Homo sapiens: one gene and its partner. The protein of the gene in region 1 purifies or fractionates together with the protein of each later gene. This does not show direct contact. Each region holds a gene or a part of one and is shown on either strand. Other genes may lie near its edges.

What was found. Proteins that work in one complex are often made in the same cells at the same time.
Region 2: the proteins of ODAD2 (region 1) and FBXL4 purify together in Homo sapiens (affinity purification with mass spectrometry; one large-scale study listed by BioGRID and IntAct). This does not show direct contact.

Annotation. Positions count from the first base shown.
Region 1 is NC_000010.11:27,982,036-27,985,692, forward strand, and holds part of ODAD2 (outer dynein arm-docking complex subunit 2), read right to left. Parts: intron 3,177-3,657; coding exon 2,984-3,176; intron 2,256-2,983; coding exon 2,149-2,255; intron 1,945-2,148; coding exon 1,808-1,944; intron 1,247-1,807; exon of another isoform or gene 1,161-1,246; intron 976-1,160; exon of another isoform or gene 894-975; intron 1-893.
Region 2 is NC_000006.12:98,867,953-98,871,565, reverse strand, and holds the end of FBXL4 (F-box/LRR-repeat protein 4), read left to right. Parts: 3' UTR 1-3,031; downstream 3,032-3,613. UniProt on the Homo sapiens protein: Substrate-recognition component of the mitochondria-localized SCF-FBXL4 ubiquitin E3 ligase complex that plays a role in the restriction of mitophagy by controlling the degradation of BNIP3 and NIX mitophagy receptors.

The DNA.
Region 1 (3,657 bases):
TAGGCTTATTTTCTAGATCTCTGTGTAACGATCTGTCCACACACCCATGTGTCTCTCTCTCTCTTCTTGTCTCTTTCCTTTCCTCATTTTCCTTTTCTTCCCTACCTCTATTGTTCTTCCATAACAGAATATATATATATAATGTATACACACATCACATAACTATATGTATATAAATACATATAACTGCAGTTTGTTATATATAACTGTATACACAAAAACATTTCTATACGTATGACCAGTGTGTTTTAAACTTTGTTGTAATTATTGAGTAGTTTTATGGTCCTTGTCTTTCATTTTTTTAAAACTTAAAGGGATACTTAGATATCTCCATGCTAAATAAGTTATATGTATGTAGATCAATAATAACCTTTGATAGAAATAAAGACTCCCTGCCCCCCTCCAGAAGGTCAAAGAAAATCATTCCTTCTTTTGTCCCTTTATTCCTAATTAGAGATTTCGTTTTTCTAAAATATCATAAACCAAAGCAAAATCTTATTTGTCTACTGCCTCTTTGTAGAAATGAGCTCAGTGTCATGCTAATAAGAAAAGCACCAAAAGGCATGTCAGAAAGATAACTATAGGTAATCAGAAAAGAGGCTCCAGCATTTTGGTACCAACCCAAGCCAACATGTAACAACCCTCCAGGCAGTCCCCCGTGATGGCTGGGTCCCCATTAAGGACTTGGATCCTCCTTGTAGAATTTTGTTTCTGAGTTCCAAATTTATGTTGAAGATACTGAGGGCAGGATGTTGCAGAGGTGAAAGCTAAGCTCCTTCTAGCTGGTTCTGTGAATAGGGATGAGACTGAAAGTGTTTTAATCCAGAACACTGTGTGCTGTTTATCACTCAGCTCAAAGCCCAGCCACCCAGCCTCTACTTTGTGCTACTCACGCAGGAATCTGCAATGTCGTATTTCTCCTTTCACCAGGCTAGGTTATTAGGCTCCGTCATTAGAATCAGCTAAAGGAAGACTGAAAGGCTGGCAGAGGGAGGAGGGACCTGCTGCTTCCTGCTGGCCCACTGTCCCTGTTAGAGTCACCCCAGCAACGGCCCTTCTTTCCACACAGTGGCAGTTGCTTCCAGTAGCAACAGTTGGTTCCAGTTTCCAGGTTTGTTGATTTTTCACGGTCCCAGAAACAGGCTCACCTCACCCCCTGGGAAATATCACTATCAGTCATCCAGTGCTCCATTTTCAAAGGTCCAGGTCCCAGCTCTGCCATCTCTACAAGGATCCTCTTCCCGAGGTATGAGCATTAACTGGGCAGTGCCCACTCTTCAGAGATCTGGAGCCCTGCCTCATGGAGATGGTCTGAACTCTGTGGGGACCAGCACAGCCTGGAAGTGGACCCTCCCAAGAGGTCTGGGTCCCAGCTTCATAGGGCACTGTCTCCTACCTTCTACATTTAGATAAGCCCCTCTCTTTCCCTTTGTCCCTCCAACTCTTAGGATGCAAGCTGCAGTTATGACATCTGTATTATCTCAATGTTTCTTTTTTGACCTTTCTATCATTTGGAAGCTGTGTAATGAATCAGTGAAGTGATTACGTTAAAGACATTTATAAAGTGGAATGGGTCACTTTGAAGCCCATTTCTTATCAGATTGGCTTAATGACCTGCAGTGGAGAATAAGAGAGCTAATTCTGAAGCTATTTTGGATTTGCCCAGCAAGCATATATCAAAGGAATCTGCTTCTATCCCACAGAATGGTAATTCATTCTCTGTGGTCATTGGGACACACCCTTGAGACATCTACAGCTAACAATCAAAGTCCACTGGCTTTAGTTACGTTTTTAAAAATTTACTTACACCATTTAAAAATACTCCTCCTGCACTGCAAGTAATGCACAGAGTCTCACCATCGTGAGGTTTCACCAGCACATAACAAATTTCCCCACGAATTTGTCTCCACGGTGGGGCTCGACATCCATTTGAAAATTCATAATCTGAAACCAATCATCAAGCAATTAACAGGAGTTCCTTAACCTAGAGTTTGGTAAAAAGTGTTGGCTTCCACAAAATAAATATTGTGGAAATTTTAAGCTTTCCCCTTCTTAAACCTTCTCTTGTAATGTAGACATTGAAAGCATTTTGCAAATGTAATTATGAAAATGTAAATAACATAAAATGAGCCTGAGAAAACATCAAACCTGAGGTATATTCAATAGATTCCAAGACTGTTTGGTTTCCTTTTCCTGAGAAACGTTTGAGCAGTTCTATATCCTTCTTCACCGTCATGGGACTTAAACTTATTTCTCTGAAATAAATGTTTAAAATGTCAGCTTAAATACTTTAAACAGAATCTAGGAAACACATGAACACATTTCATTGTATCAGGAGAAATATCTTTTTTGTAATTAAAATTGCAGTTAATTTTAGCCGTGCTATAATTTTATAACAGCACTGTCAACACATCAAGTAATTAGTGATTTATGTTTAATGCAACATTAAACGTACTCCATTAAATATTCACTTTATTTCATGCTGATAATATTCTAACACTAAAAATATTAGAAAATGAACATGCTTTGGACTATACAAACTCTACATGATATCTGCATTATAATTTAATAATTTGTGTAATAGTCTTGAGAGCATTTGAAAATAACAAGACCACCTAATGTCTTCAGAATTGCATGAAACCCCACCAGAATGTTTTCGTGATGTCACCTGCAATTTTTAATTTTTAGAACTGGAATAAATGAATCCCAGGAAAATTGTTTGTTCCAATAAAATGTAAAGTTAAATCCATAGCAATAACTTCCATACTTTACTTTTCTTGTGTCTTTTTTTCTAAAACTCTGAAAGCAACTTTGTAACTAATTTTTAAAGGTTCCTTTTTAATTTTTTAATTTTAATTGTAATATTTTATTATTTATTTAACTATCTATTTTGAGACAGAGTCTTGCTCTGTCACCCAGGCTGGAGTTCAGTGGTGCAATCTTGGCTCAATACAATAGAGGTTCCTTTTTGAAAAAGACTCACAATGAAATATGTTTTAGAGAATGATTGAGGAGGTGCAGATCCAATTGCTTAAGCAGCATAGCAATCTTCATCTTAATTTCACTTTCAGGATCATCATCTCTGGTAATTTTGCCAAGAATATTTAATGCAATTGAGTTTTCTTTCATTGTATTATAATCAGAGCCCAGGATTTTTACTATGGGGTCTCTGTTAGCTGCCAAAAAAAAAAAAAAGGAGACAAATAAAAATTATCCACTTGTCTTCTAGTACAACAAACATTAAGACTAATAAATCCTTCAAAGTCCATTCAGACGTGTTTCTTTCATTAAGCTTTTTCTAAACGACCCAATTAGAATTCATCTCTACGTCTGAGATTCCATTGCTTTTAGGAACTTTCTTCTACTTCACGAGATGCTCTAGTTTGTATTGTAACATCATCTATATATCTCCCTAATAGCACAAAGACCAAGACAGTCATTCATTCTTTCTTTTTTAATTGGCCGTGGGGCATTGTTCAGAATGCACATTCAATTAATACATTCAGAATTTATTTGAAGATGGAGAAATAGTGATCTTCTTAGAAGAATCATCACTAGAACTATATGTGCATGTGTGTATGTGTGTGTAGCAGTGCTGGGTATTTATAAAGGCTTTCTTTCCAAAATAGCATGCTTTCCTAAGCCTACAGACCCAGT
Region 2 (3,613 bases), on another chromosome or scaffold:
TGCTTCACACATTTTTAACACCACCAGTTGTAACACATCTTAGCAGATTCTACTTCAGGTTGCATGAAATTTGTGTTTTCTTCTTATAAAATATTCATGCTTGTAATTGTGCCACACAGATAATTCATAGAGACTAATTTCAGTCACTTCAACGTTGGCATTGACTTATCAAATAAGCAATAACTAGGCAGTGTCAGTAACATCTGTTGACTCATCAAGAGCCAAGGAAAACCACTCAGGGTCATTTGCCTTGTTTTTTATTGACTGTTGATGTTGTTCCCAGTGTTCTCAATTCTTTAAGCAACCATTCTTGCCAAAAGGCTAATTTAATAGTCTTAAGTTTACTTTGGACACAGTCCTTCAGCCGATAGAATCAAACACAATTTAGTTATCGTTAGTAAAATGTTTTCCTTGCTTGGTTAACATCTGAGTCACTTTGGCTGCAACTTTATTTTCATTTTTGAGTTTGTTTTTTTTTTTTTTTGAGACTGAGTCTCATTCTTTTGCCCAGGCTGGAGTGCAGTGGCACAATCTCAGTTCACTGCAACCTCCACCCTGCAGGTTCAAGCGAGTCTCCTGCCTCAGCCTCCCAAGTAGCTGAGATTACAGGCACATGCCACCACACCTAACTAATTTTTATGTTTTTAGTAGAAATGGGGTTTTACCATGTTGTCCAGGCTGGTCTTGAACTCCTGACCTCAAGTGATCCACCCACTTCAGCCTCCCAAAATGCTTGGATTACAGGCATGAACCACTGCATCTGACCTCCCTATAGTATTCTTTAAGAACAGCTATAATGACATTGCATATTAAACATCATACTCTGACATCTAATCTGATTTTTAAAAATTCATATACTAATGTGCCTTAAAAATGTCACTTCAAGTCTACTTTTCTTTTTTTCTCTTGTTTTGATGTTATGGGTAAGCACTAGTAATAAAAAATTTAAAAATATTGTGGTATGACAACATATGTGGCACTCAAAATGCTGGTAACTGCATTACTGCAGTTTTTAGTGTGCCAAGTAGCAGTGCAAAATGATGACAGCACCACATAAGTCTCCTTTGCATTTGTTCAACTCTGCCATTCTAATGTGAAAGCAATCATAGACAGTACCTAAACGAATGAGTGTGGCCATGTTCCAATAAAATTTCATGAGCACTGAAAGTTGAATTTTACATAATTTTGATGTGTTACAAAATACTACTGTGTTAGCCATTAGATTTTTTCAGCCATTAGAAAATGTGAAACTGTTCTTATGAGCTGGCTGGATTTGGCTTGTGGACCAAATTTGTGACCCCTATTCCAGAGTATTTTCGAGTCAGTTAATCCATGTTTGCCCATTCCTAATTTTATAAACCACATTCAAACCTGTTAATTCGCTGTTATCATTCTCATTTTGCCATTTAGATTTTAAAATGAAGAGCAGTGTTTTGTTAGAAAAAACAAAATGTTTACCATAACAAGAAAGATGTGTAGACAAGAAAGATATTTATGTAGACTCTTTGTTTGTTAAATTTTGAAGCCAGGTGATGCATTGTTAGCTTTGACAACTGACTTAAATTTTTGTATAATTATTTATCTTTGCATTTTGCTCAGGTAAATTATCTTCCCAGAGTCTAGAAATAAAGATATCCCTGATCCTGTTTAAGAGCATAAATAATACTCTCAATGTAAATTGTTTTGAAATAAGATCTTAAAAATACAAAATGTAGACAATTAATATTCAGGTGCTTACTTTTGAGCCAATATGTAGCAGAGAAAAACTAATTTCTCTGTGGCAGTATTTTTATTTTTGGCATTTCCCAGGAATTAACTGAAGACTAAAACTCATATGTGAAGTGTAATGATACTAATCAAAGAGTCAGTAAAATTTCCATTTGGCTACCATGTATGTGTGTATATATTTATGTATGTATGTGTGTGTTACATATTTGAGACAGGGTCTCACTCTATTGCCCCAGGCTGGAGTGCAGTGGCATGATCTCAGCTTACTGCAGCCTCAGTCTCCCAGGCTCAAGCGATCCTCCCACCTCGGCCTCCCGAGTACCTGGGACTACAGACACCACCACACCTGGCTAATTTTTTTATTTTTTATAGAGACACAGTCTTTCCATGTTGCCTATGTTGGTCTTGAACTCCTGGGCTCAAATAATTTTCCCACCTTGGCCTCCTGTAGTGCTGGGATTACGGGCATAAGCCACTGTGTCAGGCCCCATGTATGTTAATAGTGAATGTTTGGCTTTTCATTTGTTACTTTCAGCTATTAAAGGATACCTATTACAGACACAGGAATTTACATTTTCAAAGTCATTTTTGACACATCAGTGCTGCATCTACTTTTCTCCTTTTAGCACATTTGATATTGATACTTCAGAGAAACTTTTTTAACTACCCTTAAAATCTTGTCAATGACCATTAACTGCCAATCATCACCTCATTTGCTTTTTTTGACAACATACTACTAGAAACCTAGGCTGTGAGTGTAAAACCATAACTGTTAGAATCATTTTTTTGGCAATAGCTCACATTCTGTTAAGAGTCATTTGCTTTAATCAAAGATCATGATTTATTATATATTTTTTATAAGTAGGGATGGGGCCAAGATTATTCCTTTGGCACAGCAGTAAGTGTGCTCAAGATCTTTGCCTGTAAGCTTGAATATTTGGCTTAAATTTTGTGCATATGAATACTGTTAAAGGTATATTTGACTACATTTTGAAAGGAAAAAGGTAGTCCTGCTAAAATTGACATTTAGGGATATTTTAATCTATGTATTTGGTAAAGTAATTAGTGAAGTATTAGTTATAAAAATTTTAAGGAAAACATTTAAAAGCAAAATAGTCGTATCAGATAAATAGAGTAGAATACACTAAAGATAAAACAAGTCTCTGTTACAAATGAAGTTGTCTGTACAGACGACTGAGATATTTTAATTTTATTTACATAAAAATGCTGTTCAATATCTAATGATTTCTGTTGTTTGTATTCTGTACTTTAGAGTAATAAAATAAGTTTGAGTATCTCATTAGTTCACTTTCAAAATTGATCATTTCAGGGCACTGCTGAATATAATGGAAGGTTTGGGTAAATAGGTTTGCGTCACAGCCCCTGTGAAATTACCAGCCTAGATGAGGAGCCATCCGCCTGTGTACAGAACTCTTTTTTTTTTTTTTTTCATTTCTCTCTCTATATATTTTTTATTATTATTATACTTTTAAGTTTTAGGGTACATGTGCACAATGTGCAGGTTAGTTACATATGTATACATGTGCCATGCTGGTGCGCTGCACCCGCTAACTCGTCATCTAGCATTAGGTATATCTCCTAATGCTATCCCTCCCCCCTCCCCCCACCCCACAACAGTCCCCAGAGTGTGATGTTCCCCTTCCTGTGTCCATGTGTTCTCATTGTTCAATTCCCACCTATAAGTGAGAATATGCGGTGTTTGGTTTTTTGTCCTTGCGATAGTTTACTGAGAATGATGATTTCCAATTTCATCCATGTCCCTACAAAGGACATGAACTCATCATTTTTTATGGCTGCATAGTATTCCATGGTGTATATGTGCCACATTTTCTTAATCCAGTCTATCATTGTTGGACATTTGGGT